Linked DNA regions of Homo sapiens: regions 1, 2, 4, 5, 6 and 7 are each reported to be linked to region 3. Evidence: microRNA targets listed by miRTarBase, many of them from high-throughput screens and not tested one by one. Region 3 holds a microRNA gene; each other region holds the end of a gene's coding sequence.
What was found. The annotated mature microRNA hsa-miR-1976 reads CCUCCUGCCCUCCUUGCUGU and lies in region 3 at 1,607-1,626, shown strand. An mRNA with a match to its seed (bases 2 to 7 or 8) in the 3' UTR can be bound and repressed. Matches are read on the target gene's strand: a 7mer-m8 pairs with bases 2 to 8, a 7mer-A1 pairs with bases 2 to 7 and ends in A, and an 8mer does both.

Region 1 (4,000 bases), not on the chromosome of region 3:
TCATGTTGCATTATTAGTAATACAATGGCAGTTAGGGCCTCTACTATGGAAATGAGAAAATTTCAAACTACATTCTTTGGGGGAGGAGAGTAATAAAGCTGCATGGTTTAAAAATTTACCTAGTAGTGGATTTGATAGGGTTTATATAATTTCTACAAGAAAACATAAGCCAGGAAAAGGACAAATGCTTGACATGCAAAATCTGGTTAGACATATACTAAACTAAGCCTGTGTGTCCCCCTGTAGAGAGGGGCCCAGCGTGACTTTTTTTTTTTTTTTTTTTTTTTTTTTTTTGAGGTGGAGTCTCACTGTCGCCCAGGCTAGAGTGCAGTGGTGTGATCTTGGCTCACTGCAACCTCTGCCTCCCGGGTTCAAGTGATTCTCCTGCCTCAGCCTCCTAAGTAGCTGGGAGTATAGGCGCGTGCCACCACGCCCGGCTAATTTTTGTATTTTTAGTAGAGATGGGGTTTCACCATGTTGGTCAGGCTGGGACTTGGGTTCTTAATAAAATACCACTCTCTGTGATGGCTACATCTAAGCCTTTGAAGGTGAGCTGTGGACATACCACATGTGGACAGCATGAAATGCTTCTTCTGACACTGAGAGTCACTTGAAAAACTTGAATTCAAAGTCAAGCAGGCCAAATCTCACACCTCATGAATCCCAGGAGGTACACAATGAAGAAGAGCTTCTGCCTTAAAGGAACAAGGCTGTCTGGGAGGCCTGAGAGTCCATTAAAAGACACCGCATTAACTACAACAAAAAGAAGAGCAGCACCACCCACCAGTGGTGCCCCAGACACACCTCTCCTCCAAGCTCTGGGCTGCTCCTCTTGGAGTCTACACTTAGACCCTGGGGGTGGGGGTGGGCACACAAATGGACAGAGTGGTCTAAATGCAGGTCTCCTGGGGTTCTGCGAAATCTAGCCAGAAGCATCTCCATCTCGGTGTCCATTTCGATCCAACTAAGCTTCCAGTAAAGACACTGCAGCAATGTAAACATGCAACCTAAGCTAGCATGAGGTTCTAGATAGTAAGCCTGAACTAGGAATAAGGCAACTGAACTGTGACTTTCGGGCCAGGGTCATCCAGCTGCAATTATCCAGGCTTGGCCTGGCTTCTCTAGGGATTCATTCTGGCCTGAACTTCCTGGTAATCATGACATGAACTTCTGGCTTCTGAATTTTAAGTAAATACTTTGAATATATAAATTTGGGAGGTGAAACAGGTTTACCCTTTTCAAGTCTCCATGACTTGGGCACTTAAGTTTACTTTCACACTAAGGAAGCCTTATCATAGATGCTCTTTACTGTCTATCATATCCATTCCTAGCATTAAAGGTGAAAATTAGTATGATCACAGACTCTCTTTAGGATATTCTCTCTTAACTCTCTCATAATATTACATACTCAAAAGCATAATTTCGATTCAAGAATCCCTTGATTCGTCTGTTCACCGAAGCCCACTGAGACTACACTTGAGGTGCAATCACACCTACTGGTGCGTCCACTTTATGGAAGTCACGTGGCTCCCTGGACACCATCTCCCGGTGTCAGCAACACTCTGTATCCCACTATAGCTTTCTCGTTCCCAGATGATGCATAAGGAATTCATTTTTGGTTGCTTAATTTACATACTATCTGTGAAAACAAACTATTCACAATTGAGCATGAAAACTTATAAGCTTCCCTGAATTCTGCACAATTCACACATAATTAGGTAGACAGCAATAGAAGACACTAAAATGAGAAGCAGAAACCCTGTCCAGGAAGCATGTTTAGATCAACAAAAGCCAATCATTCTTTATGCTAAAAACTAAGACCAAACTAAAACAAGTATGTAATTCACAAGTAATTTTCTAAAATTTTAGCTAGAAAAAAATAATCTATGGACTTATGATTGAGTTACCATTAAAGCTTAAATGATTGTTCCTAAGGAACCATCATATCTGTCAGCATTATTCACAGCTAATCCTTATGCTAGCTGGTTGAGCCAATTGGGTTTTTACCCCATCATTAAATAGTGCTCAGAAAAGTAAGCAGTGCATCTTAATTGGTTAAATACTACAAAATGACCTGTATCATAGAAACGAAGACACTTTCATTCAAAGAATATCTTAAAATTACTATTGCTGAAATAAATCAAAATCTACATTAAAATATTACTAAACACCATTACATGCCATAAAAGAATAAATAGAAATCATGGCAGATCAATAGCAGCATAACAAAGCTTCTTTACATATTTTCACACTTTGGGCCGGGAAAGTACTCACAGCCTAGGAATACATTGGTAGAGTTCGGAATCACATTTTCTTTTAACTCCATAATTCTACAACAAAATAAGGGCAGTGTGAATAACAGCTCCCTTTTCTGCATAGCTTTAAAACTATTCTCAGTACACTCAAGGAAAGGAACCAGAATGGCTTTGTCAGATTGGTCCACTGGTCCTTTTGTCAAAGTGTTAAGGAAAACAATCAACAATGACAGAAAAGGAAAATAAGGCTGTGCTTCACACACAAACTTAGCATTTTCAGAACCAATGGAGAGTTTAACCTAAAATGAAGATTTGATAGGATGTGGGCATTCCCAGCCCCAGCCTTTCCTTCAAAGGTATGACATGCCTGTGTCCACACCACCAGAGCCTGACAGTGCCCTATTCAAATGGTAATGCTGCACTGGGGGCCTGCTGCAGGGCAGGACTGGGGCACTTAAAAACAAAATGCTATTAAGAAATTTCACAACTTTTAAGGCCCAAATGGGGCATTCATATAAAATATACTTCACTTGAGGAAATAATTCCTAATTTGCCGGCTTAAATTCTGGTCCTAAAAACTAGAAGCTACTTTGCAGAGCTGCCTTCTACTCTGTTCAAAACTTGACTTGTCAGCCCAAAGCCCGTTTCTATGGGGTAGGCTGGGGGAAGCGGTGGGGGCCGGGCTGAACTTCTGCTGTGAGGCTGGTGACTACTCCTCTGTAAGTCCTTGAAAGTGAAAGCAAGCTGAGAATCTGACTCCTTATTCCACAGCCTTGCTCCTAGCTGATGAAAACACCCACATAACTTAACACAATGATCGCTCTCTTTTTTTTTTTTTTTTTTTTTTTTTTTGTCAAAACAAGGATCTGCTGGTGATGCTTCACAGTGAAACCTCCATTATCACTGAGAATGTCACTTGGAAAACATTCTTAAGAAATGAGTCTCTTTCTCATAGGCTCAATTTCAGGATTCTCAAACTCAATGTTCTGCTCAGAAGTTTCCATGATGAAGCCTATTTGTCTCTGAGGCTGGGGCTCTGCCTTTAGACTTATTCTGCTCCAGTCATAGGTTGTGGTTGTCTTTGTTCTTGGTCAGAACCTGCAAGTAGACTTCATGAAGTGTACTGAGGAAGCTGGAATCATTCTAGAAGAGATGGTAAAGGTTAAGGATACGAATGCCACATTTACCTCATCAGATTTTACTTCCTTGGTAACAGCTTAGGAAAAAAATTGTATAAATGATTTGTATAACTGATAATCCCACCACCCAGAGACAATCATGATTAATATTTTGAGTTCATGCAGATATTTCTCCACCAGGACTGTATGCTTAAAAAAAGAGAAACAGTACTCCCAGCTAGTCTGTTTTTGTTTTTTTTTTGCCTGCCTTGGCCTCCCATAGTGCTGGGATTACAGGTGTGAGCCACTTTGCCTGGCCTCCAGCTAGTCTTTTGAATTTACTTTATGAACTGATTCTGTAAGAGGAATTTATAAAATTTCTTTCATTAAATAATGAAAAATCAAAGATAAAATTGGTATCCTACATACCTTTATTAGATGTATTAATGTATCCTGGAGCTGAGACTTGCTGAGAATAATGGAAGGCTTTCTCTGACTTTCTGGCGTTCCAATAGTTAGAGGAGAAGGGGAGCTGGCTTTCCTCTCAAGGTCCGAAGATCTTGTAACTGTCTGCTGGAAAACACTTGGGGCCAGCAGGACTGAAGACACTGCAGTGGTCGTTGCAGT
Region 2 (4,614 bases), not on the chromosome of region 3:
TCTGTCTCAGCCTCTTGAGTAGCTGGGATTACAGGCATGTGCCACCACACCCCGCTAAGTTTTTATTTTTAGTAGAGCAGGGTTTCTCCCATGTTGATCAGGCTGGTCTCGAACTCCTGACCTCAGGTGATCTGCCCGCCTTGGCCCCCCAAAGTGCTGGGATTACAGGCAAGAGCCACGGCCCCTGGCCCTTTCTCTTCTTATAAAACCACCAGTTCTCCCAGGATAACCCATTAGTCTATCAACCCATAAATTGATTAATTCATTCCTGAGGATAGAGCCCTCATGATTCAATCACCTCTTAAAGGTCGCACCTCTCAGTACTACCACACTGTAGATTAAGCTTCAATGTGACTTTTGGAGGAGATGGTCAAACCATAGCAAGCAGTTTGGGAACCATAGTCTGTACAGAAACAGTGATTGTATTAATATGAAGTATGAGACACCAGCAAACTAGAGTGGAATGGATGAGCGCCTTGTAAAGAGACATCCATGAATGTTTCAGTAACTATGGCTATGTGAGATGAGGGTATACAGAAACTCTGAGGACCTACAGACGTGTGTATCTCCTGTAGGCAAAGTCATTGTCAGAGCAAGTAATCCAAAGGTGTTATGGATTCTTGTGTCTCTGGCGTTATAAAACGTATGTTGAATTTTAATTGCCATTTTAACAGTGTGGAGAAATGGGACCTTTAAGAGGTGATTAGGTCATGATGGCTCTGCCCTTATAAAGGAATCAATGCCTTTATCATAAGAGTGGGTTTGTTAACCCGAGAGTGACGTTTTTATAAAATCAGCTGTCTCTGTCTTTCATGCTCACTTGCCCTTCTGTCATATTATGACAGAGTAACAAGGCCCTCACCAGATGCCAAGCAGATACCAGTGCCATACCCTTGGACTTCCCAGCCTCCAGAACTGTATGAAACAAACTACTTTATAAATTACGCAATCTGTGGTGTTTTGCTATAGTAGTGGAAGACAGACACAGACATAAAGCCTGTTAATTCAAACCACTACTGCACAGGTAGGAGCCTCATGACTGAATGAAGGGAGATTCTATACTTCTGAGATAAGTCTTTTTTTTTTTTAAACCTAAACATAATTCCTGGTGACTCAGGTGGACATAACCTTCCTTGTCTCCAGTTCTTCTTCCCCGAGATTCTGAATTTCCAACAACATTGCTTCCAGTTTTTGATACTATAAAATCAGAGTTGACCCACGTAAGACATGAGGAGAGGCTAATGATGGAATCAACACAGCTTTGCCAGAGGTTATAAAAGAGGATTGAGAAATCCAGATTTTATTTGGAATTTTTCTTTTCTAACAGCTTTATTGAGGTATTAGTGACATTCAGTTGCACATTGTTAAAGTGTAAAATATATAAAAACAATCACCAAAGTCATGATAATAAACATATCCATTGCCTCAATAGTTTGTTTGTACCCTTTTCTATTCTCTCTCGCTCACAGTCCTACCCAAATTTTTATGCTCAGGTAGCCACTGGTTTACTTTATGTCACTATATACATCTTTCCTTCCTTCCTTCCTCCCTCCCTCCTGCTCTTTTCTTTTTCCTTTTTTCTTTTCTTTTTTCTTTGTTTCTTTCCCTCCCTCCTTCTCTTCTCCTCTCCTCTCCTCCTCTCCTCCTCCTCTCCTCTCCTCTCTTCTCTTCTTTCTCTTTCTCAGAATTTCACTCTTGTTGCCCAGGCTGGAGTGCAATGGCACGATCTCAGCTCACCGCAACCTCCACCTTCTGGGTTCAAGCGATTCTCCTGCCTCAGCCTCCTGAGTAGCTAGGATTACAGGCATGCGCCACCACGCCTGGCTAATTTTGTATTTTTAGTAGAGACGGGGGTTTCTCCATGTTGGCCAGGCTGGTCTCGAACGCCTGACCTCAAGTGATCCACCTGCCTTGGCCTCCCAAAGTGTTGGGATTACAGGCGTGAGCCACCATGCCCGGCCTATAAATTTTCTAGTATCTTATACAAATGAAATCCTACATTACATTCATATGGAGCATTTTTTGATATTTATACATGTTAAGCGTATTCATTTTTTGTTGATGAAGAGTATTGCATTGAATATACCACAATTTATTAATCTATTAATAAATATTTTGATTGTTTCTAGTGTTGGACTAAAAAACTAACAAAGACCCATGAACATTCATATACAAGTGTTTATATGAATATATTTAGCAGAATTGCATTTGTTATACCTCCTTGTCCATGATGGTTATGGTGTATTTTAAAGATTAACCATTTTCATAGATGTGTTGTGGTCAGTGTGGTTTTTAAATTTGCATTTCTCTAATAATTAATGATGCTGAATAAGTTTTTATATGCTTATTTGTTATCTGTATATTTGGCCAAATTTCTAAATCTTTTCCCTTTTTTTAAAAAAAAATCTTATTTTTCTATTTTAATAGAGTTTTAATTTTAGAACATTTTAAGATGTACAGAGAAATTGCAAATATAGTACAGAGATATCTCATTTACAAGCACACCTAGTTGTTACTAATATATAGTCATATATTAGTATACAGCATTATTTACAATTAGTGAAACAGTTTTGATACATTATTAAACTAAAGTACATCTTTGATTGAGATTTCCTCAGTTTTTACCAAAATACATGTTCTGTTCCAGAATTCCACCTAGGATACCACATTGCATTTATTTTATTATTTTTTATTCTTTTATTTATTTTTTTTCATGTGTCTCTAAATGTAACCACATTACAGTTAGTACTCACATTTCTTTAGGCTTGTCTTGCTTATGAGAATACTCATTTATTTTGATATTGATTTTTAATTTTTTTTTTTTTAGATAGTCTTGCTCTATTGTCCAGGCTGGAGTGCAGAAGCACTTTCTTTCTTTCTTTTTTTTTTTTTTTTTTGAGACGGCGTCTTGCCCTGTCTCCCAGGCTGGAGTGCAGTGGTGGGATCTCGACTCACTGCAACCTCTGCCTACTGGGTTCAAGGATTCTCCTGCCTCAGTCTCCTGAGTAGCTGGGATTACAGGCACCTGCCACCATGTCTGGCTAATTTTTGTATTTTTAATAGAGATGGGGTTTCACCATGTTGGCCAGGCTGGTCTTGAACTCCTGACTTCAAGTGATCTGCCCACCTCAGCCTCTCAAAGTGCTGGGGTTACCGGCGTGACCCACGGTGCCCAGCCACTTTTAGTTATTTTTATTTTTATTTTGAGTCTCCCTCCGTCACCCAAGCTGGTAAGTAATTCTCGTGCTTCACCCTCTGGAGTAGCTGGGACTACAGGTGTGTGCCACATGGTTGGCTAATTTTTGTATTTGAGACAGGGTTTTTGCCATGTTGGCCAGGCTGGTCTCGAACTCCTGGCCTCAAGTCATCTTGAGTGGATCACTTGAGGCATTTGGGAGTGCCTCAGCCTCCCAAAACGGTGGGATTACAGGCGTGAGCCACTGTGCCCGGCCTGCACATGTCTTTCTTACATGTGGACTCTCCAGGGGATTTATGCTGTTCAAGAAGCACCTGAATCAAACTGTGCTTTAAAAATATTTTTAAAACATTCCATGATTCTTCATAGTACAAAAATGAGAAATCTCCCCTAAATCTCTAAAGAATTCCCTTTTTAAACTTTTTGATTTCCTGAACTTGTCTGAAGGACTTAACACAGTTATATAGAGTGTTCTTTGTGTAACAGTATCCATGACTTTCATTTTTAGCTCTGGTATTAGATCTTCCTGGACAAGAGCATTACTGGCCATGTGTATGTTGCTATCACAAATAACTAGTAGTTAATATTTCCTAAATCTTAGCAAGAGTTATGATAAATAGCTGAATTCCATGAAGAGAAAAGACTCATGGCATGACAACCAGATTAGGAAAGAGTGTTTTCCTTGTCCTGCAGGCAAAACAGAACTGAGAGATATGAGTATCACTCATGATGAGGACAAAAGGGCTGCGTGCTGGGAAACATGAGGCGACCAACACAGAGTTGGTCACTATCCACTGGCCTGGGTTTGCAACTACAGTTGTCCAAATTGTCAGAAAACTATGGACTGAATAGAAAACAAAAAAGGAGCTCACCAGGACCATGATGGTGTGTGTGGCTCTGGCTTCCTGGGAAGGTCTGCAGGAGAGTCTGTTGCTGTGATTGTGTTGGACTTGCTGCTTGTGTCTGTAGAGGAAGAAGACCATGGAGCCACTGGCCCAGACCATGAAGCCCAAACTCATAAAATCAGGGGAAAAATATAAGACTGCATGTAATGAGCTAAATCTCTTTGATGCTTTGTAAGAACAGTATCCATAATTGTTTTTTGCACTACTGTTTTTGCTATTCAGTGGGCCATTCACTAATAGAAGAACAGATGCATTCATCAAGACATGGGGGGCCCAGCAGAGGAGACAACAGAAGTCAATAAACCTTGGGGATCTAATCTTGATCTCCATCCACCTGCATATACTGGGGTTGAGCTTAATGGCTTGGAATCCATTGAGAAGGCAGATGGTGCTGAGGGAAACTCTTGTGCCCACCCTGTGATAATAAAAGACAAACTTACATCCAGTGTCATTCAGCAAATATTTCAATCCAAAAGCTGCCATTGTCTGAGGTATCCCTTTAAAGAAAAGGAC
Region 3 (4,569 bases):
TTCCTACCCCCATTTCCTTATGTAAAAAGTACTATTCTGTATACACTGTTCTGTACCTTGCTTTTTTCAAGATAGTATATCTTGGAGCTCACTCCATGTCAGAACACGGAGAAACTCCTTGTTCCAGTTCATGGCTGCAAAGCACTCCATTATGCAGGGGAGAGGGCTGATTCCAGCCTTCTACTCTTGGACCCTAGGCCTGTTTCCCACCCCTTCTATTTCTGAATGGTGCCACAATGAGTGGCTTGCGTATTAGTCATTTCATACTTCAAATCCTTTGTATGATGAGAAGGCTATATGGCCTGGGGTTTCCAAGGGTCCTCCCAGGGTGGCTCTTCAGGACCAGGAAGCTGCTGACTGCCCAGTGCCCCAGCTCTTAAGGAAGAGGAGGTCCCTGCTGAAGGCCCCTCCTGTCTTTTGCAGGTGATGTTCACGGAGGAGGATGTGAAGTTTTACCTGGCTGAGCTGGCTCTGGGCCTGGATCACCTGCACAGCCTGGGTATCATTTACAGAGACCTCAAGCCTGAGAAGTGAGTGAAGCCTCCAGCCCCACCCCAGCCTCCCCAGGGGAGGCCTCTTCTAGGACAGGGCCATCCTGAGGTGGGTGGGCATGGCTTTCTCCAGAAACGTCTCCCTCTCTTGGGCAATCTGAGGGATGGGTGAGTGGGGTGGGTGGTAGTGCCAGCTGCCCAGTCACTAATGCTACCATTACCAAGGGCCAGGTACTTTGCATGCAGGTAATGTTGCCCGTCTTTTTTTGCTAATCTAGTGTGACATTTGAGATGCCACCTTTAGAGGTCTTTCCTTGATAAAGCCCTATAGAATTTTCCCTAATATCTAACTACCCTCAAATGATAACTAAGGAGCCAGGGGCAGGTGGTGAGTTGGAATAAGATCTGGCTTTAGTGTTAGGCAGCCCTGTATTCAAATCCTGTCTCCACCTACTAGCTAGACTTACTAGCTCAATGACTGTAGAGCTACTTAACTGCCCTGAGCCTTAGTTTTCCCATTAGCAAAACGGGGCCCTAATAGTACTTGCCTCACACAGTTGCTTCAAGGATTAGCAAAAAAGATAGGCAACACCCCTGCGTGGTACTGCTACCACCCTGCAACACCCGCCCAGTCATCAGAGAGAATTGGGTGGAGCACCTCCTCTGGGCTGAACCCAACTCCCACAGCCCTGTGGTAACACCATCACCCACACGGCCACAGCTGAGGGGCCCTGACCACTATTTCTCTATTACAGCATCCTTCTGGATGAGGAGGGCCACATCAAACTCACTGGTGAGTGGAGGGCGCCTGCCCCCTCGGGACCCAGGGGAGGACAGGACAAGGTCATGATAGGTCTCGGCTGAGTGCTGGGGGCTCATTCTTCCCGAGAAGCCGTGCCAGTTACTTGGAAGTGGTCAAAAACTCAGGCCTCAGACTTGGAACACCCTCAGCTGGAATCCCAGCCCCTCATTGTGTAACGTTGAGCAAGTCACCTGACCTCTCTGGGCCTTAGCTTCCTCCTGAGTGTCATGGGGGTGATGCCTTCTGGCCTCTGGGCACGGGGGTTGGGTGTGCAAAGGGTGGCAGCAAGGAAGGCAGGGGTCCTAAGGTGTGTCCTCCTGCCCTCCTTGCTGTAGACTTTGGCCTGAGCAAAGAGGCCATTGACCACGAGAAGAAGGCCTATTCTTTCTGCGGGACAGTGGAGTACATGGCCCCTGAGGTCGTCAACCGCCAGGGCCACTCCCATAGTGCGGACTGGTGGTCCTATGGGGTGTTGATGGTGAGTGCCCAGACAGGGGTAAAGGATCCAGCCCAAGCCTCTGGCCTCAGTCTCCCTATCTGTACAGTGAGGGGGTTGATCATTTCTAGGGCTCTCCCCGTCTCCTCTCACAGCCAAGCTGGCCTCACCCTATATGCACCTGCAGTTTTCTTCCTTGGAAGGATCCCAGGCTTGACCCCACCTGGGACGCGCCTAACCCAGTGCTGGCCTTCTCCCCAGCCTCGCGCCCCCACCGCTGCTCCTGGTGGTCTGGTTGGCAGAGGCAAGAGGGACGGGCATAATTCTTGCTCCAGGCTGACTTGGATGTATCAGCAAGAATCCTGGGACTGGGGCAGAGGGGTCTGACTGGGAGGAGGCGGGAGGTGTGTCGGAGACAGGGATCAGAGCCTGAATAGATCCTTGTCCTCTGCAGTTTGAGATGCTGACGGGCTCCCTGCCCTTCCAGGGGAAGGACCGGAAGGAGACCATGACACTGATTCTGAAGTAAGCCCCAGCCCTGCCCTGATAACAATGGACTCCTCCAAGCCCCAGCCCCAGTTTGGGGGTCAGAATATTATTACCCTGTCCCTGCCTCAGCTACCCTCTCTAATGAGACTCTCCTCTGGGTTAAACATTATACCTTCCAGAGCCCCTCTTTCATCCCTGGGGGCCTGTGGGTAGGATCCCTGAAGCCTTTGGGAAGTGAATTAGTGGATGGCTTGTCTAGACTGAGCTGGGAACTAGATCTGGACAGGGGCCGGGGGAGATGGGGCCTCTGGGGCAGGGCTCAGCCTTGATGAGTCCCGGGGGCTGTTTCAGGGCGAAGCTAGGCATGCCCCAGTTTCTGAGCACTGAAGCCCAGAGCCTCTTGCGGGCCCTGTTCAAGCGGAATCCTGCCAACCGGCTCGGTAAGCAGCCCCAGCTCAGGGGAGGGGATGTGGCGATGGGGAGCCGGGTACAGCTGCAGCCTAGGCCACAGGGCCACATCTGGGCTGAAAGGGGCCGTTGTCCTTTGTGTGGGCAGACAATGCCGCGGGCCACCCTGCTTTCTGGCTCCATGTGTGGTGTTGTGGAGGGGGGAGTTGACCTGTGTGTAGGGGGAAGGCAGGAACTGAGTCATCCCTACTCCCTCTGGGGACAAGGACAGAGGCCCCCACACAGCTTCTCCGCCAAGGCTGCTGGCACAAGAGAAATAGCATGAGCTCAGGAGTCAGAAGGCATAGGTCCCAATCCCGGCTCTGTGTCAGGTCCCCACTGCCTGGCACAAAACAGTCCCTCTATAAATATTTGTTAAACGAATGAGGCCACTTATGAACTAAGTGACCCCAGGCAGGTGACTTCACCTCTCTGCACCGCAGGTTCCTCGTCTCAATGGGAGATGATGATCCCAAGCTTGCTTCAGGGCTCTGTTGATGAAATGAGGTTGTGTGAACATGCCGGCATGTAGTAGGTGTCCAGTGTGTGCTGGCTTCCCTGGCTCCTGGGTTCATCTGGTCCATGACCAGCTGTGTAAGGTCCAGTCAAGGCCCCTGGGGTCGAATGGAGTAACAGCCTGTCCTATGGTTGAAAAGGTCAATGGGATAAGAGGAACAGAGATGAGGCTTGCCTTGGAATGAGGTGGGGCTCTCTGTAGGTCTCAGAACAAGCTCAGCTTCTGTTCTAACTGTGTGGCCTTGGAGAAGTTGCCTAAAGTCTCTGGGCCTTCCTCCTCCCACTGGTACATTGGAATTTCTTCATCAGAAGCTCCAGAAAGTGGAAAATGCTGAGTAGGTGACAGGCCTTAGGGTGATGGCTGGGTAGATTTGAGGCTGAGTGAGCCCATTTTCCCCTCTGCTCCAGCAGCTGGTCCCAGAGCCCTGTGAGGCTGCTTGGTGGGCAGGGTAATATCTGGGACTTGTGCCAGCCAGGGACAGACCCTTCATTTGGGCTCTTTCAGGCTCCGGCCCTGATGGGGCAGAGGAAATCAAGCGGCATGTCTTCTACTCCACCATTGACTGGAATGTGAGTGTGTCCACCCACACCAGGGCTCTGGCCAGGGCTCAGCCATCTTGGCCACAGGAAGGGTGGTGGGAGGGGAGCCTCTGCCAGCGAGGGCCCCAGACGCAGGAGCAGAGGGTCACAGCCTGCCCTTGAAGACAAGGGCTGGCCTCCTGAGGGCAAGCAATTCCGAGAGCTGGGCAATATGGCCTATGTTCCAAGCCCAGCACCTCCTCCTGCATGGGGCTCCTGGTGGGCTGTTGAGGATGCCATGGTGACCAGAGTGCCCACCCCACTGTGCAGAAGCTATACCGTCGTGAGATCAAGCCACCCTTCAAGCCAGCAGTGGCTCAGCCTGATGACACCTTCTACTTTGACACCGAGTTCACGTCCCGCACACCCAAGGGTGCGTCCCTTATCTGTTTTGTCTGTCTTGGGCTGGTACAGGAGGGAAGCCGGGAGTCGGTGGCAGCTTGGGGGGCAGAGATAGTCAGGGACACTGACAGGCCGAGGTATGCGGGTGGGCAGGCGGGTGAGTTTCTGGCTCCGTGGGACTGACTTTGTCCCTGTCTCACTCCGCCCGACTCTCTCACTATGGGGCTCTGTGGGTCTCTTTGTGTCTGGTGAGAGAGTGGGAGTGGGGATGTGTGGGTGGTGAAGGCCACAGTAGAAAAGCCAGGACCCCTGCCCGGGGCACCTTCCAGCCCACTGGGAAGACCAAACACATCAGGCTTACCATCACGTCAGGGAGAAAGAATCTGACCCAGCCACACTGTGTGGTGGCTGAGCAGAGGTGACAGTGCCCATAGGTCAGGGACAGGCATGGGAATCAGCTTTGGCTG
Region 4 (4,614 bases), not on the chromosome of region 3:
TGTGCTTTAATTATATCATTTTTTAAAATAATAAAATAGATAGATGAAGGTTTAAGATGTGATTGCTTCTAAAAATGCATCTGTGATCTTCGTCTTATTTTTGTACTAAATTTTCTTTGCCAACAGTGACCACTGTGCTGAAGTATGTTCTTAGTGATAAGAACTGGCCCAATTAGAATTAACTGTGAGCAGAAAACCTGGATCTAACATCAGGGAGCTGGAGGACAGTCTTCCAAGAATTGATCCTGTTACCCTTATATCCACGTTTCCCTGTGATGTGGTCACAATACTAGAGACGGTTTTCTTTTCAAAGCACATTATTCATTTTTAGTGACACCAAATTTCAGTGAGCGTTATTCTCTGAACATTTTTTATGCTAAAACACTGAATTGTGTCTTTCCTGTACTGTAATATATCTGTTGGTTATTTGTGTTTTTATAGTCTGATTTTTTTTTTTAAGCAGGGGAGGTTTTAGTTTGTTTTAGCTGCGACCATGAATTTCTGGAGCTAGTGAAGTTAAAGATTATGCTTTAGGAAGGATGGTACATAAAAAAAGATTAATGGCATTCATTTGGAATTATAGTTAATGGTATCCATTATGGGGGGTACTTTTTAAAAAATACTCTGGGTAAGCTGTTAATTTAAAAAAATATTGATTTTGTAACTTGTTTATTTTTTAAAAAATGCAAAATATTCTGGAATGCTATTACATCAAGAACTTAGAGCTTTAAATTATATATAAATCCTGTTCATATGTATTTGTTTATGTGTGTGCCTCCTAAGTATAGTACCAAGTTTCATAAACTAGTATTTCTGTACTCTTATTTTTCTATCTCAGCTTTCCCAAACTCAGAAGCAAACCCTCTAAATGCCTATTATTTGAAATGTCTTGAAAACCTCGTGCAGCTCCTTAATTCTTCCTGAGTGCCATGGGATGCTACACCTTGAAGCTGACAGTCATCAACAGGGGAGCTAAAGTTGAAGCCAGCTGTGTGTAGCAGCTGTTACCTGAAGACGTGCTACCTCTCTACAAAGTGTTGATCCCCTTCTTTCCCATGAGAGAGAGAACTGGTGATACTCCAACACCGTCCAGTTGTGGCAGCTCTCCAGAAGTAATAGCAGCTGACAACTTTCTGTGCCTTTTCCTTTCTGTTGAAAAGGCATAGAAAGTTCTGGGAACATAAACATTTTTACCCTTTTCTATGCCATTTATTTTGTAAAAATCCTATTTAACAGTTATTTAATAAAACAATATTTTTAGAAACTAAAAATTGACTAATAATTGCTGCTTACAGACTTTTATCAGTCTCATGAATATTAATTTTAGGAGTTGAAATAAGACACTGTGTCCTGGTTGTTTCTCTCTTTTTTTAAATTTTAACTGATGTAAAATTTGGCTCTGTCAGTGCAAATCCTTATTTTCAAAACTTTCTGTTATCCAGAGCATCCACACTGGAAAAGGGCTATGTAGAAGTAAGTGTGCATTATTTGTAAAGGGCTGTGTGGAAGTAAATGTACATGATTTGTAAGTAGCTTTCTTAGGCAAGTTTTAGTGATGTTATCTTCTTCCTAGATGACTCTTAAATCATTACATGTATAATCTTCACCGTTGTCTTCTGCAAGGCTGTGTAATAAAGAAGAAAGAAATAGAGTTGGGGCTGTATAAGCCTGGGTTCAAATTTAGCTCAGCCCAAAACATCATGAAGAATAGAGTAAGACTGAAAAATGCAGAAGATGGCCGGGCTTGGTGGCTCATGCTTATACTTTCAGCTCTTTGGGAGACCGAGGTAGGTGGATCACTTGAGGCCAGGAGTTTGAGACCAGCTTGGGCAACTTGGTGAAATCCCATCTCTCCTAAAAATACAAAAATTAGCCATTCCTGGTCTTGAGCGTCTATAATCTCAGCTACTCCAGTGGCTGAGGCACGAGAATCTCTTCAACCTGGGAGGCAGGGAGGTTGCAGTGAGCTGAGATCATGCCACTGCATTCCAGCGTGGGTGACAAAGCAAGACTCTGTCTCAAAAAAAAAAAAAAAAAAAAAAAATGCAGGAGGAACAAGCTCTATACTCTATTACATAATCTTACTTAACCTGTAGTTTTGAATTCCGCACTTAAACCAAAATCAAGTACTAATCACTTTCAGCAACTTTCCCAACACTTTTGAAAGTGAGAAAATTGTGTGTAAGAGAAATAAAAGGTGAAGTATTAATATATATATGTTTGTATATACATATATGTCATATACATGTATACATATATATTCATTTAGGATAATGTTTTCAGAAAAACTGAAAGAAAAATATCATTTTAAGTGCTGTTAAATTGCTAACAGCAATAAAATAAGCAATGATGTTATTTAAGCTGGAAGTATGACAAAATTTATGTTAAATACAGAAATAGTAACAGTTAAGTTTGTAATGTCTGAGAATTAATTGATTCGAGATCTGAAAAATAAATCTAGGAAGCTCAGAAGTTTCTGAGCTGCCCAAGTTAATGTGTAGCGGAAAACTCGTCAATTCTGAGAGCAGGAATCTTGGGAATTATTTTTCCCTTTTCTCCCGATATCTTATATTTTTTGCCATTTTTCTGGAATTCTCTAATCAGCCCTCACTGATAAATAAATGAAATGAATTTCTAACTCCCTTCATAACTCCTTTATAACTCCTCCTTCTATGTCCCAGCTATTATTCTCGGAACTTTTATCATTTAATCTATCTTTTTCTAAAATACTACTAATGTCTTTGTGTTCCAGGTGAATAAGCGGAGGCGCAGAGCGGTTAAGTAATGTGCTCATTGACTGTGGCTGGTTATCAGTGAAGTGGAGGTTGGAACCCAGGATAACTGCGAAGAAGTTTGCTTTTCTTTATAAACCACTTTTCTTTATAAACCATTTATTCTGCCCCTCTACCACCCCCACTGAAATATCTCTTTTTGTGTTTGAATCTTATAGATAAACACCATTTTTCAACAAAAATTTGTTCTCTTCAGGGAAATTATATTATGGTTCATTGATTGACTGATTCACATATCAGAGTAGGCACTACCTCATCTTCTTGGAACCAGGAAGAATTGTTGTAACTGATCATTTTCCCTAGCAGTTCACAGTAGTACCAGAGGGAGATTTGTAGCCTAGTAGTCAGAACCACCCAGAAATGTTACCTGCCAAAGCCCAGGAGGACTGCAGACCTTGGAGAAAGGAGAGGGGCCATGGCTTTAGGGGAACTTGCGTTTGCCTCTCTTGGTGTCCAGGAATGTGAAGCTCGGGTGCACGCTGTGGTCCAGATCCTGGGGGACAGTCCTTGCAACTGGGTCTCCTGGGATTATGCACCGTCAGCCAGTGGGGAAGACGTCTCAGCAGGAGCCTTGAGGTGACTGGCCCACTGCTGTAGCAGCTGCCCTGCCTCTCCCTTGCGGACCAGCATCAGAATCCTCAGGTGTGTGCACTGAAATGCAGATTCCTGGGCTCAATGAGGCAGACTTGTGTCTAGGAGAATTTTTAGCAAGCTCTCCAGGTTCTGCTCACCACAGTTTGAGAACCACTGATTAATCCCCATGATTACAGAAAACTGCCTAGAACACGAAAATTATTTCATATCACTTAACTGCTGCCTGATGAAATCAGGACTTGAATCTGGGTCTCTTGAATGTGAACCAAGTATTTTTTCTTTCACACCTGCCCAAGTTTAAGCAAGGATCCAGGAAATAGGTGCAGGGGACTAGTTCATACTTCATGGTGTCCAATTTCTCCATATCCTAGCATTTTTGGTGGGCTGAGTTAGTGTATGTGCGCTATGGAAGCACAAAAAGGTAGTGCCACGTCACACATGAAGTGCAGACATTGATACTGAGGCTTCTGGGCTTAAGACTTGAGCAGTTTGAGGGAGGAGGCAGCCATTAGTTTTGAAAACAGGAAGCTAGTAGGAAAGTGGTGTTAGCAGACCTGGCTAGACCCTTTTGCCACTCTTCCTAAAAACACTTACAGAAATGAATAGCTGAATGTACCTCTTTTTTTGGTGTTCTATAAATAATGGAGCAAAAAAAAAAAAAAAACAAAACAGAATTTTGCCTATTTAACTCCAGATCACCAATTTTCCTTTGTAGTGTTAAATGGACTCTTCATCCGTGTCATTTTGCATCATCAGTCTTTGGGGCTGCACCTTGTGTATTCCCCATTTCTTGAGGTTGCCAGAGCCCCAGGTCTGCTTCTTGACCCGTGATGTTCCTCGGATTTGCCAGAGTGATGGGTAAGAGTAATGACTGGCATCCCCGCTTCTGCATTAAGATCTGCTTGCAGTTATCTCAGTGAATGAGAGAGCATAATAGAGCGGTTAAGAGTAGAGGGCTCTTGAGTCCTGTGGACCAGGAATTAACCCTGGCCTCACCACTGCAATTGTTGGAAACCTGGGACAGGCTCAAGCTAACTGGGGTTGAGGACACCTACCTTGTGCAGTTGGTGAGAGGACTGAGTGCTTAGCCTGGTACATAGTTATCCCTTAGATGTTATCAGTGATTTTTTATTCTTACAAAATTCTCAAAAACATCTGTTTAAGCAAAAACTTCAAATCTTTTGTGTCCTTGCAAACTTTCCTCCCCTCTGGGAGGGGATGTGCTGGA
Region 5 (4,614 bases), not on the chromosome of region 3:
GGTCTAAATCTCAACGCGGAAGACCAGTGTGAGAGCTCCAGTCAGAACACCATGAGAGAGTCCAGGCTGACTTCAGACCCCGGTGTCTGTCTCCACTCTTAAGGAGACAGCTCTTTGTATAGTGGTTAAGCATAGACTGTGGAGCCTGCAGATGTGGTTCCATCCTTATATCTGTCGCTGTCAAACGGTGTGATCTTGGGCAAGTTGCTTAACCTCTCCTAAGTCTCCATTTCCCTATCTATAAGATGTGGCAAATAGTAATACCTTGTCCATGGACTGTTCCAAGGGTGAAAAGCGTGATACATAGAAAGCAGTTGGGCCAGTGCCCAGCCCAGTAAGTGCTCAATAAACATTAGCTGCTTTTGCTACCATCATCATCATTGGTAGTGGTAAAAATTAACTTGCAACCAAGTATTAATTATCATTTACCCATTTAAATAAAAGGAAATGCAGAGGCATAGGGAAAGCAAAATAACACCCAAAATATATTGATGACATCTGATACCTTTGCTTCTACATTAACAGATTTATCTTTCTAATTGTGTTTATCCTTGGTCACTGTTAAAATTTACTGAGTTTTTCTGAGCACACATAGTAGTGAAGCCTGAGATACTAAAAATTACAGCAGCTAGGACTTTACGTAGGTAATTGAGATGGACCGAATTGTGAACACCAGCATTATGAATTCAGAGAGAATCTTTTTCTTCTCCTTTGTTTCTTTTAGAGGATTCTGCAGATTGGGAAAAAGAACTGCAGCAGGAACTTCAAGAATATGAAGTGGTGACAGAATCTGAAAAACGAGATGAAAACTGGGATAAGGAAATAGAGAAAATGCTTCAAGAGGAAAATTAGCTGTTCCTGAAATAGAAGAATAATCCTTAACAGTCTGCAAACTGACATTAAATTCTAGATGTTGACAATTACTGAATCAGAAGGCATGAAAGAGTATAATTTTATGAAATTCAAAATTATTCTTTTTTCAAGTTGAAACTTGCCTCTTCTACTTTAAAAAAGTATATAGAACAGTTACTTCTAATAATCAGAAAGAGATGTTTTATAGAACATTTCTTTAATATAAAGTTAGAGATGTCTTCATAGGCAGTATGGCTATCTTTGCCACAGAAACATAAGTAAAATTTTAGAGTTCTGTTTTCCATGAGGTCAAAAATATAATTTATTCCTCAGTCATGGTTTTCTAAATATCTGTACTCCACATTCCATTTTAATTGATATGAGGGTGTTAAAGTACCTACTTAATGGGTTGATTACTATCAAAATGACCAAATTATACCAAAGAACTTAAGAGGAAGCACTTTCAGAACTATTCACTTGCCAGGTATTTTCTAAAATTCCACCTGAAAGCCAAAAGATAAAATAAATAAGTTGATTTTAATGATATAAGCATCACACAATTTTACATTAAGAAATACTGTGCAGGCCATGCGTGGTGGCTCAGGCCTGTAATCCCAGCACTTTGGGAGGCCGAGGTGGGCAGATCACCGGAGGTCAGGAGTTCGAGACCAGCCTTGCCAACATAGTGAAACCCTGTCTCTACTAAAAATACAAAAATTAGCCGGGCATGGTGGCAGGCACCTGTAATCCCAGCTACTAGGGAGGCTTTTGAACCCAGGAGGCAGAGGTTGCAGCGAGCTGAGATCGCGCCACTGCACTCCAGCCTGGGTGATAGAGTGAGATTCAGTCTCAAAAAAAAAAAAAAAAAAAAGCTGTGCGAAAATATTTGTTTTTCTCTGGGGCCTTTTCTTTCTTTTCTTTTTAAACTATACCAGAAATTTTACATCACAGTTTTTATACAAAGTGGGACCTTCCATACTTTTTGTATTACAATAACCTTCAGAAGCCCATTCCCCTTAAAGTCTGTTGTTCTTGTTTTAATCATCACCACATATAAATGTTTTAGCTTTGTCTTAAACTGTGAGTCTTCATAAAATTGTGTTCCTCCGAGTTCACCTTCTAGGACTTTATTGATTAATCCTTCTCTTTCTGCTATACCAGCAGACACATATTCATAGAATATGATTATTTTTAAAGAACAAGGTGAGGAGGCTGAGGCAGGAGAATTGCTTGAACCTGGGAGATGGAGGTTGCAGTGAGCTGAGATCACGCCACTGCACTCCAGCCTGGGTGACAGAGTGAGAGACTCCGTCTCAAAAATGAATGAATGAATGAATGAATGAATGAACGAACGAACAAGGTGGTTTAATGTCAGAAAACTTCCTAAGCATTTGCTCCCCAAACCTTTCATGTTTTTCAAGAAGCCTTTATTACATAAAGGGGAATAGAATTAAAATGTTTCTTTATAAGAAAAATATACATATTTGTGTTCTTGGCCCCATTAAAACTAGTCAGTAGTCCTTTGGCAAAGATATAGTCAACAAGAGAACTGGGTATGAGTCCAGGCATTACTCCTGTTCATAGTTGTGGATGCATGTGTCTGAGCCAGACTGTCTCAACTGGAGTCTCTTGGGTTATAGCAGTAAACCCGTGTATTCCATGAAACCACTGGGCCCATCATCAAAAGGTTTCCACTTGTGGTGCCACAGTTGCTTATTACTGAGTTTGGGTTCCAAGATGACTGGCAACTTCTGAAATAATCTCATTGAAGGAAAGAGTTTCATTTTTTTTTTAAAAGAGTTTGCTGGAGGAAAAGAAGCATGTTAAATGTTTTTAAGCAGCTAAAAGTCCTAGATGGAAGCATATCAGGATGTGTCGGTGCTTGGCTCTTAGTGAATGCACTAAAATTCTTATTGATAAATGTTGAATAAACACACACAAAAAAGTATCAGAGAAAGAGAAAAACCCTACAATGGCAATAGAGGTGTGTGACAGTTATTGCTATCAATTTTACATAATATCTCATTTAAAAACAACCTAATTATGCATTGCCTGTGAAAATAAAAGGATAAAATAAGATTTTGTACATACTGTAAGAATACAGTTGTGCTGTATTTTTATGGATTCATCAAGGAGTAAAATGTTCTGCTTTAGTAAATTATATAGGTAACTGAAGTGTTATTCCTTTAAAGAGCAAAATAATTTATCACCATGTTTGGTGGAAAATTTCTAAGTATTTATTACATGCCTAGGGGTTAGCCAACAAGATATACCAAGCATGAAAACCTGTAAAACTTAATAAAATGCTAAAATATGAACATCACACTATGGAGATTATGCCTCACTACTCAAAGAGTGTGGCTCAGGAACCAGTGTAGCTTGGCCATGCCCTGGCAGTATGTTGGAAATGCCTGCCCCAGACCAGTTGATGTTACTAAGAACGCCCAGGGGATGAGAATGGACTTTATTTACAGTTTGGGAAGCACTGGTCTAATATGCTCTCAGGGAAGCTGAGGTTTCTACTGCTTTTTACTTTTTACCCTTCCACTAGATGTCCTTTGCAGCAGTGTTTTTCTAGTTGGCATTACAGGTGTCTCCTCTGAGGTTCCAGTTATTTCTATACTACCAAAATTAAAAAGACCCAAGGGCTGGGCATGGTGGTTCACACCTGTAATCCCAGCACTTTGGGAGGCTGAGGCAGGCAGATTGCTTGAGCTCAGGAGTTCAAGACCAGCCTGGGCAACATAGGGAGACCCCTGCCTCTACAAAAATACAAATGAGCCAGGTGTGGTAGCCCACACCTGTGGTCCTAGCTACTTGGAAGGCTGAGGCAGGAGGATCGCTTGAGCCCAGGAGATCCAGGCTGCAGTAAGCCATGATCATGCCACTGCACTTCAGCCTGGGTGACAGAGACTCTGTTTCAAAAAAGGGAGGGGGGGCAAGTTTTTAGGGGGATGAGAAATATTCTTGGTAAATCGGGCATTTCTTTTTTTGTTTGTTTTTTTTTCTTGGAGACAGAATCTTGCTCTGTCACCCAGGCTGGAGTGCAGTGGCTTGATCTCAGCTCACGGCAACCTCCGCCTCCCAAGTTCAAGCGATTCTCCCACCTCAGCCTCCAGAGTAGCTGGGATTACAGGCAACCGCCACCATGCCCAGCTAATTTTTTTGTATTTTTAGCAGAGATGGGGTTTCACCGTGTTGGCCAGGCTGGTCTCAAGCTCCTGATCTCAAATGATCCGCACGCCTTGACCTCCCAAAGTGTTGGGATTACAGGCATGAGCCACAGCCTTAATTGGTAATTTTTGAAAAAAAAACTAGAGAAACATTGTTTCAGAGATAAAGCAGCAATTACACTTGTACTCCCAGTGATTTAAGATGCACTATTGTAATCAAGATGATTTGCTTTAATCAAAATATTGTTAAAAATAGGATTTCAGGACATTTAAAAGGTTTCAGCAGAAATCTTATGATTATGTCTGACTTGCAGTATTTTATTTGCCTCTTTGACGGCTTTTTTTTTTTTTTTTTTTTTGAGACAGAGTCTCACACTGTTGCCTGGGCTGGAATGCAATGGCGCAGTCTCAGCTCACTGCAAACCTCCGGCTCCCGGGTTCAGGCAGTTCTCCTGCCTCAGCCTCCCTAGTAGCTGGGATTATAGGCATGTGCCACCACACCCGGCTAATTTTTGTATTTTTAGTAGAGACAGGGTTTCGCCATGTTGGTCAGGCTGGTCTTGAACTCCCAACCTCAGGTGATCCGCCC
Region 6 (4,587 bases), not on the chromosome of region 3:
CAGCTCCTATTTGTCTTTCCCAGGTTCCCCTGGACAGACAGTGGGGAAGGGCAGCAGAAGTTAGCCCAGCCTTTCCCATTAGTGTCCCAAGTCTTTGAGATGGGTAAAGAGGTTCTCAGGGCTGATCTGGCATCTCCTCCCCCATTCCTACCCTTTTCCAATTCCTGTCTCCCTCCCCTTGGGCCCCAGCTTTCTCTGCAAAATAATCCAGTCACCTCTTCCCTGGCCTCAGGCACTTAAACGCTGCAGAAGGGGAGGCCTAAATCCTTTATGACCCTTATGAAAGCTATGTCCCTCTTCACCGGGCACAGTGGCTCACACCTGTAATCCCAGCACTTTGGGAGGCTGAGGTGGGTGGATCACAAGGTCAGGAGTTCAAGACCAGCCTGACCAAAATGGTGAAACCCCGTCTCTACTAAATATACAAAAATTAGCCAGGCGTGGTGGCGGGCGCCTGTAATCCCAGCTACTCGGGAGACTGAGGCAGGAGAATTGCTTGAACCCGGGAAGCGGAGGTTGCAGTGAGTCAATATTGTGCCATTGCACTCCAGCCTGGGTGACAGAATGAGACTCCCTCCGTCTCAAAAAAAAAAAAAAAAAAAAAAAGCTATGGCCCTCTTCCTAAACATGTATACAATCCAGGGAGTTCACACATAATCCCATCCACATACCCCACACTTTATTTTTTCCTCAGAAAAGTGCGTACATAGACCCCACTTTTAATAACCAAGAACTAACAAACAGCTGATCATTCGTTTATTTTATTTCATTTTTTTGAGACGGAGTTTCACTCTTGTTGCCCAGGCTGGGATGCAGTGGCGCGATCTCGGCTGACAACACCTCCTCCCCCCTCCAAGGTTGAAGCGATTCTCTTGCCTCAGCCTCCCAAGTAGCTAGGACTGCAGGCGCCTGCCACCACGCCTGGCTAATTTTTTGCATTTTTAGTAGAGACGAGGTTTCACTATGTTACCAGGTTTCACTATGTTGGCCAGGCTGCTGGTCTGGAACTCCTGACCTCGTGATCCGCCCACCTTGGCCTCCCAAAGCGCTGGGATTACAGGCGTGAGCCACCGCGCCCGGCCATACATGGCAAGTTTCTACATGGTGTTTCAGACTTAGCTGATCACCCTCTACCCTCAGGCCAGATTAGATTCCACTTCTCCCTGTTCTTACAGTGCCGTTAGTGCTGAAAGGGGAACGTGCCTTGTTCATTTGGTTCTGCACAGGGTCCAGCCCAGTGCTTGGCACAAACGTGGTCTCGGCAGTGCTGCATCCCTGGCTTGACCTGGAGGTAGCAATTCCTTCAAGCCATTTGCTCATCTTACATTGGTTCGTGGGCCATGGAATGGTGTCGAGAGCTTTCTGCCTATCTTCCAAGGAGGTTTAGGTCCTGCCAAGAGCTCACAGATCCTATTTCTTGCCTTATCTCTGGCATTTATTTCTTCCTTAACCAGCCTAGCTTCAGTGCTCCAGAAAAGTGCCCTGCCCTTCCACACCAGGATCCCTAGCGACTCCCGAATGATGCTTTCTTGGACTCTGTTCACATGGCCTCAGCCCTTCTGCACCCTGCTGCACGAAACCTGGTGCCAGGCCAGGCCAGGCCAGCCGGATCCCTGCTTACTCCTTACCCTGACATCCCGCTGGTGGAGAGGGATGGAGGTAACTGCAAGTGAAAGACCAGTTAGAGGACCGCATCTGGAAGCTGTGCCAAATTTTAAATACTGTATATTTAAATATATATTTTTATATTATATACTATATATATAACATTATGAGCCACCAAACCCAAAGAACTATAATGAAGAGCCAAACAAAACAAAGTGGCTCAGGTTCTAGGGGACGTCCTAGGGTGGAGAAAGAGGCCTGGAAGGTGGGCAGCCCCTTCCATCGAGGGTGGGGCGGCCGCCTGACCCAGTCCACCTGCACCAGTGGGGTGTGGCATCAGTTAAGCAAAGGACCCTTAGGCCTATGCAACATTTCTGCCCCTAAGTTAGAGAACCACCTTTTAGAGTGGCGATCTCATGGGAGTGGCAGCTTGACTCTGCAGGAAATGTGGGTGCTATGAGTGCAGAACAGAAACTCTTACGCGTTCTGATATAAAAACAATACATGAAAGGATGTGGATTTAGCCGCAAAATCACGCTGTTTCAATTGAATAAAGGCACCGCTGGGATTCGAACCCAGGATCTCCTGTTTACTAGACAGGCGCTTTAACCAACTAAGCCACGGCGCCGAAGCTGCCATAAAGGTTCCTGAAATTCATCTACAAGAATATAGAGCTAGGAACCCGGACCGAGCTTTTTCAGATCTTTCTAGAACTAATTTGGTAACTCAACTGGCTCTTGCATCACTTGTCCATTCCTCGGATTTCCTTCAATGTCCAAAGACGTTAATCATAGATTTCAAACCAAAATCATAGACTCTAAATCAAATTCTCGATTCTAGAGTTCCTAGATGAGAGGTTTGGAGGGTGCCGACTGGATCATCCCATCCTGGAGAGAAATATGGTCAGTATGCTGAAGAAAAAAATATGACGTAGTCGGCAGGATTCGAACCTGCGCGGGGAGACCCCAATGGATTTCTAGTCCATCGCCTTAACCACTCGGCCACGACTACGAGGCTTAGGGCTTCGTTTTCATCCAATGCCTTTCTTACTTCCCTTGACTGACAAACATCTGCCTCCATGAAAGCGCTTCAGGGAAAAAAAGACGCGGCGGTTGCACGTGAACCTTCCTTTCACCCGGGTGCCCAGAGACTCCTCCCTCCAAGCCTTCGGGAGCGCTAGTGATTCAGGGAATAGGAAGCAGTAGGTGCAATATAATTCTGTTACCAGAAGGCAACTGGCTCCGGGTAGAAACTTCCGGATAACAGCAGAGGGTCAGAAAACAAAACACACACAAAAAAAAGCCACCCACTGGCCCGTACGGGGTTCGAACCCGCGACCTTGGCGTTATTAGCACCACGCTCTAACCAACTGAGCTAACCGGCCACTAACTTTCCGGGTCTACTTCAAATCTTAATATAGGGTATTGCTACCATAAAAGCAGCATAAATCCCAACATATGGGTTTAACCACGCTCTAAAGGTCTCCCAAACACGAACAAATCCTAACAGCCAGGAAGAAATGGCCTCCCAGTAGCTCTGAAAGATGTGCCTCAGCTCATCTTTCCACCTCTCCATCTATCAGTCCCCAGTAAAGAAATGCAGCAACACCAGCCAAAGGCATTGGTATCTCCAAAGAATTGTTCCTAGATCCCCTAATTGTACGGTTGTGATTTCGGAGCACCTTCTGGTCTCAAGGTATATCGATCAAGGATCTGCCTTAGGCCAGGCCCTTGGGAAACCTACAGGGCTAACCGTAGCCTGGGGCCCTATAGCACAGTCACCCAGAGTCCTCACCTGCCCCTGCTTGTGCCTGGCACTTGCCTCCCCCTACACCTTCTTTGTGCTTGTGAACACCTCTAGGCATTCATATTTGACTTCCTGCAGGGCCCAGCCTTACTGACTGAGACCATCATAGCTATGCTCTCTGCCTTGCCGCCAACTCCCCAATTTACTTCCTTTACAGACTGATTTTGGTACCATTTCTTCTGCTGGACGAAAAGCTCTTCTCTTCCAAATCACTTTCCACCTTTGGCCCTGGCGGCAAAGGGCTGAAATGATGATGAACGACTAGGAGTTCCTAGGAGGTGGACAACTAGGAGTCAGGAGGCCTGGGACCCCAGAGATGAGTACCAGTGAGAAATGACACCAGAGGGCTTCATTGCAGGTCAATAGGCCTGTCACCATCACCCCACAGCGAGCAAGTCTTTTGTTCCCTCAGCTCCTGCGACAAAGTCAGAACCCAGGTGCTCAGGGCCGCCTGTGAATGCAGGTGCCTTGTCCCAATCAGAGGACATATTAATAGGGCCATGATTTCCTGTTGCCACAATTTTGCCAAGGCAGGCTGGCACCAGAACACCAAAGAAGGGAAATTATAGTGGAGTAGCAGTTTGTGAATCTGGAGTCCTTGGTTCAATCACAGAACAAGTAGGGAGAGGAGCCAGGACCTAGGCCTTCAGGTTTTCAGCAAGGAAGGACTCTCAGGCCATCCTTGCAGTTCAGTTAACAGGAGGAAGCAAGGATCCCCAGAGAGCTGGAGTACTCTGACTCTCGGATAGAAAGGCAGGACAATCGGAGCCTGGGGTTCACGTGAGTCAGGAAAGGGAGCTCTCCACACTGGAATCGCTGTAGCCGAGGAGGTTCTGAGGTGGGAAGAGAGGAAAAACACACGTCTCAGGCATGTGGCTTTTAGTTCCCACCCACCATTCTCCTCCCTAACTCCAGAAATTCCCCATCAGTCCCTCATCCCTCTTCCTCCCAGGGACCCATCTATCTCTATCACCATGATCCCCCTATCATCATGATCCCCCCGTCTCCAACCTTACCTAATGGGACGATCTTCGACGGTTTCCTTTCCAGCTCAAAAGAAAGCACAATAGGACGGAGGACAGAGGGGCTAGTACAAAGTGTCCAGAGGAACATGGTCATGGGCTCGTCAACCCTGGCTGAAGACTAGAAAGAGAAGGTCAAGGTTAACTGGCTCCT
Region 7 (4,614 bases), not on the chromosome of region 3:
ATGCCACTATATTACCTATGAGAGTAATGAAAATATTCTTTAAACTGATGATGTCAAGTATTTTCAAAGATGTGGAGAAAGCAGAACATTGATATACTGCTGGTGAGAGTATAAGACGGTTCATTTGTTTGGAAAACTGTTCAGAAGAATTTAAACTTACTAAAAAGTTGAACAGATGTGTATCCATGACCACACCCCAGCAATTCCACTCCCAGTATATACAGAAAGAAATGTGTACACGTGTGCTCCAAAAGACATGTACAAGTATGATCATAACAGCCCTATAAGGAAGTTCTGACTTCCCAACACATTATTCTTAAGAGCACATAATGAAGGATTTTAGGGGCCATGCTGGGATGCGTCTTTTATGCGGATCTTGGCTAGTACTACATGGCTATGAAGGCTCCTTAAAGGAACTGTGCTAACACTCAATAAATCTGTTATGTCTGAAGTAGGAATTAAAAGACAAAAAAAAATGCAACAGATGGAACTAGAAAAGTGGTCAAGGATCAAACAAAATAACCTAATAGGATCATACAATATTAAAAAACAGGCTATTGCAATACCAAAACAAACAAAAATACAATAAAAAAGAAAACTATTATATAATCTCACTCATGAGATGCAAAAATACTAAATAAAATGGCAAAATGAAATCAAGCAATGCATCAGAAGGATACTATGACTAACCTGGAATATCCAGGAATGGGAAAAAGTCAGTGAATCTATCAGAATAAATTATCACATGAACAAATTAAATACTATAGAAGTGCAGAAAAAGATAGTGAAACGGCATTTAATAAAACTCAGGAGGCACCACTACTTAGCTACAACAAAGATTTTCACTCATAACTGAGACCATGATGCTGCCATTCCATCATAGCTAACAACCAGACATGGTGACTGAAATTCTCTTTTGGTTATAGCAGCAGTTCCCAATGCAATTTCACCCACCTACAAAGATAATAGGTCATGGGAATAAGTATTTCAACAGTGAAGTTTGCCATACACCAGTTTAAACAAAGTTCAACCATTTTCTTCACTAGAATACTCCTTAGTCTTTTTTTATTTTTATTTTTTTGAGACGGAGTCTCGCTCTGTCGCCCAGGCTGGAGTGCAGTGGCGCAATCTCGGCTCACTGCAAGCTCTGCCTCCCGGGTTCACGCCATTCTCCTGCCTCAGCCTCCCCGAGTAGCTGGGACCACAGGCGCCCGCCACCACGCCCGGCTAATTTTTTCTATTTTTAGTAGAGACGGGGTTTCACCGTGTTAGCCAGGATGGTCTTGATCTCCTGACCTCGTGATCCGCCCGCCTCGGCTTCCCAAAGTTCTGGGATTACAGGCATGAGCCACCGCGCCCGGCCGTCTTTTTTTTTTTTTCACTTCTCTTTAGTCTTTTGATAAGCTGGTGAGGTGCTTTTGCTTGTTCCTTAGGAGGGGATTTAGTAGATGCTACTTTATAAGCTTCTTTAACTGTAAAATCCTCCTTCATTGTCAAGTACTAGTAAGCACTGGTGATTCCTTGAGATATAATTTCAGAAATGTTGGGATAAGGCACCATGTCTACATTTCTTGGTTAACAGGCAAATGTGGCACCCAGAGGGAGTGGCATAATAGCCAGTTACCAATAATATATCCTGTTAAAACTCCCAAAGTACTCTGCTTTGTGTTACAGTTGATTATTAAGAGTGCAACTGTTGGCTTTTTATGCCTTTGAAAAAGTGCAATCATGTAGAATGATGATCACTAGATGGTGAATGACTGACTGAACAGTGATATTACGAATCCCCTATGTGCACAAAATAGAGAGGTCAGGTGTAGACCTATGACAAGGAACCACAGACATTTAGTTATCAATGCATTAGTTCTGATGGAACTGACATTATTTTCAAAAAGAAATAATTTTTAAAAGGGTCGATTTCTAACTGTGTGAGTATATAAACACACACTCTATTTCTTCATAACTAACCTGCCTTGATGCTAGCACTAAATCATGACAGGCACCTGGTTGAAAGTGGTTGCAAGAAGCCATCAATTTTAAGATGCATTGTGATTTCCAAATAGTAAAATATAGCCAGGCGCAGTGTCTCACACCTGTAATCCCAACACTTTGGGAGGCTGAGGCAGGTGCAGGAGTTCAAGATCAGCCTGGACCAACATGGCAAAACCCCATCTCTACTAAAAATACAAGAATTAGCCAGTATGGTGGTGCACACCTGTGTATCCAGCTACTTGGGAGGCTGAGGCACGAGAATCACTTGAACCCGAGAGGTGCAGGTTGCAGTGAGCCGAAATCACACCACTGCACTCCAGCCTTGGTGACAGAAAGAGAGATCCTGTCCCAAAAAAAAAAAAAAGTAAAATACATACCATATGATCACACATTTCCAAAGATCATTGATCAAGGCTGACCAATCCTATTAGGTATATAATGGATCTTTATAACAGACAACTCCAGTAGTTACCATAAGTGATCAAACTTGGCACTGGTGATACTGGGGGAAATGGATACTATCTGCTTCTGAGGTATTGCAAGATGAAGTACACATCACCATCTATGAAGTGTTCTGGTAAAAAATGTTTAAGCCTCTATTTCCAACTTCATGTTACGAGAAATGTGAAGGAGAGGCCCATATCAAATTTCACCATGAGGAATGAAACTAATGTGTGACATTCTATAAAACAGCTTTCCTAAACTCTTCAAAAGTCTGGATTTTTTCAAGTCTCATTTTTTTAGCTCAGCTTAAGGGATAAACTCTGAATTAAAATCCCCTCAAATTCTTTATACTGTACTAGATCTTATCCAGAATGAACTATCTGAAATTCAAATGGATGAGTGGTTATGGGAAGCTTTTCTGAATTCATTCCTCAAAACGGTTGTGCCTCTCCTAAGAATTCACCAGTAGTAATACTAATAATAAAGACAATATGAACAATAGCTAATATGTATTAAGCATAGGCTACATACCAGATACTCTTCCAAGGATATGATGCATACTAAATCCATCTAATCTCTGTAACAGCATTATTAGTTACCATCAGCATTTGAAACATCATGTCCAGAAGAGATAAGCATTTTGCTCACCATCCTACAGGTAGTATGGAGGTGAAATGGTGATGACAGTATGGTATTTGCCATGGATAAGGGTTTTCCTACATTTGTTACATTAACAGAGTTACTCTCTAGGATGAACTTACTGAAGTTTAACAAAGACTGAATAGTGTTGGAAGGCTTCTGCACATTTAACATATCTGGTATAAATTATCTTATGCTGTTACAGGCATTAGAAAATTTTGATTCCCTCATTTGCCAAATCTTGCTATAGTATGAATATTCTGCTATTCTAATCAGAGAGGTGCAAGTGAAGAATTTCTTATTTAAATTGTCACTTGTCTCATGTCTTGAAAAGTGTGAGTCTTGTCTCAAATTATTTCTGGGAAAGAACAAACTTTGTTTTCAATTCTCAATCATTTATGGACTGATAATTTTGTAAAACAGAATGTTATGGAAATGTCAAATTGCTATAAAAGTTCCAAATATTTACTCACTTTCCACGTTTATCTCACAATTGACAGATGACAATTTTATGACTGCACCAGTCTCTGGATAATAATTTGGGTAGCATTTGTCTAAAGGCCTTCCTATAATTCTAATTCAAATGATTTCTCATTTGGATGAATTCTCTGATGTACTCTAAGATATTTACTGTGTCTATAAGCCTTCCCAAATTCCTTATGTGCATAGGATTACACAGCAGTATGAATTCTCTGATGTGCAGCAAGAACTGAATTAAGTTTAGGTCCTTCCCACATTCCTCCTATTTAAACTCTTTTTAACAAATACCAATTATTTGATGTTAATCAGACCTTATGTCATGAATGAAGATCTTCACACATTCCTTACATTTAAATGATTTTACATCAGTATAAATTGATATCCAATAAGACTGTACAGAAGTCTAAAGGCCTTTTCATATTAATTATATTCAAAATATTTCTCACTAGTATGAATTGCTGGATAGCAAGATAATTGCCCATAAACAGAAATGAATGGCTTTTGCACAACCCTTACATTCACAAGGTTTCTCAAGAGTAAGAGTTCTTATTATGATAAGTTGTCTATACACACACACAAAATATTCTTTTACAACTTTCAATCATAAGGTTTCATCAGTATCAATTTTCTCATTTGAGTAAGTTGTCCACAGAAAGGCTTCCCCACATTCGTTATATTTGTAGGGTTTATCATTACTATGAGTTCTCTCATGAACAAGTTTTGAGCCACAAGTAAAGGTCTTCCCGAATTCCTTACGTTGATAAAGCTTCTCACCAGTATGAAATCTCTGATGAACACTAAGTTGATAGCCACTACCAAAGGCCTTCCCACAGTCTTTACATTCATAAGACTTCTCATTAGTATGGACTCTCTCATGCTTAACTAGGCTTGAACCCCAACTGAAGGCCTTCCCACATTCCTTACATTTGAAAGGTTTCTCACCGGTATGAATTTTCTGATGTTGAGTAAGGTGATAGCCACGACTAAAAGCCTTCCCACATTCTTTACATTCATAGGGTTTCTCCCCTGTATGGATTCTTTCATGTTGAACAAGGCTTG

Region 1: the mRNA of DCP1A is a reported target of hsa-miR-1976. Seed matches in the 3' UTR shown: 7mer-A1 at 902-908 and 8mer at 381-388.
Region 2: miRTarBase lists VN1R1 as a target of hsa-miR-1976. The part of its 3' UTR that is shown has no 7-base or 8-base seed match.
Region 4: miRTarBase lists RTTN as a target of hsa-miR-1976. The part of its 3' UTR that is shown has no 7-base or 8-base seed match.
Region 5: miRTarBase lists SYAP1 as a target of hsa-miR-1976. Seed matches in the 3' UTR shown: 8mer at 2,070-2,077, 7mer-m8 at 3,683-3,689 and 7mer-A1 at 3,703-3,709.
Region 6: the mRNA of CTC1 is a reported target of hsa-miR-1976. Seed matches in the 3' UTR shown: 7mer-m8 at 3,824-3,830 and 7mer-A1 at 2,187-2,193.
Region 7: the mRNA of ZNF283 is a reported target of hsa-miR-1976. Seed matches in the 3' UTR shown: 7mer-A1 at 1,288-1,294 and 8mer at 1,170-1,177.

The regions. Positions count from the first base shown.
Region 1 is chr3:53,284,263-53,288,262 of GRCh38, forward strand. It overlaps DCP1A (decapping mRNA 1A), which reads right to left. Exons shown (of 10, transcript NM_018403.7): 9 at 3,803-4,000; 10 at 1-3,398. The coding sequence ends at 3,318. The region is part of intron 1 of LOC107986087 (a long non-coding RNA gene); the gene reads left to right. Among named protein-coding and RNA genes, the nearest start is that of TKT, 30 kb to the left of the region's middle.
Region 2 is chr19:57,451,585-57,456,198 of GRCh38, forward strand. VN1R1 (vomeronasal 1 receptor 1) reads right to left here. Exons shown (of 1, transcript NM_020633.4): 1 at 3,206-4,614. The coding sequence ends at 3,841. Among named protein-coding and RNA genes, the nearest start is that of VN1R1, 3.2 kb to the right of the region's middle.
Region 3 is chr1:26,552,968-26,557,536 of GRCh38, forward strand. MIR1976 (microRNA 1976) reads left to right here and starts at 1,575; the gene lies at 1,575-1,626. It overlaps RPS6KA1 (ribosomal protein S6 kinase A1), which reads left to right. Exons shown (of 22, transcript NM_002953.4): 7 at 424-530; 8 at 1,247-1,284; 9 at 1,629-1,771; 10 at 2,184-2,254; 11 at 2,570-2,658; 12 at 3,687-3,751; 13 at 4,031-4,133.
Region 4 is chr18:70,000,461-70,005,074 of GRCh38, reverse strand. RTTN (rotatin) reads left to right here. Exons shown (of 49, transcript NM_173630.4): 49 at 839-2,044. The coding sequence ends at 924. Among named protein-coding and RNA genes, the nearest start is that of CD226, 55 kb to the right of the region's middle.
Region 5 is chrX:16,759,508-16,764,121 of GRCh38, forward strand. It overlaps SYAP1 (synapse associated protein 1), which reads left to right. Exons shown (of 9, transcript NM_032796.4): 9 at 725-4,614. The coding sequence ends at 852. Among named protein-coding and RNA genes, the nearest start is that of TXLNG, 25 kb to the right of the region's middle.
Region 6 is chr17:8,224,076-8,228,662 of GRCh38, forward strand. It overlaps CTC1 (CST telomere replication complex component 1), which reads right to left. Exons shown (of 23, transcript NM_025099.6): 22 at 4,428-4,554; 23 at 740-4,244. The coding sequence ends at 4,105. It overlaps TRT-AGT1-2 (tRNA-Thr (anticodon AGT) 1-2), which reads right to left and starts at 2,233; the gene lies at 2,160-2,233. TRS-AGA2-6 (tRNA-Ser (anticodon AGA) 2-6) reads right to left here and starts at 2,616; the gene lies at 2,535-2,616. TRI-AAT4-1 (tRNA-Ile (anticodon AAT) 4-1) reads right to left here and starts at 2,989; the gene lies at 2,916-2,989.
Region 7 is chr19:43,848,184-43,852,797 of GRCh38, reverse strand. ZNF283 (zinc finger protein 283) reads right to left here. Exons shown (of 7, transcript NM_181845.2): 7 at 781-4,614. The coding sequence ends at 4,157. Among named protein-coding and RNA genes, the nearest start is that of ZNF283, 23 kb to the right of the region's middle.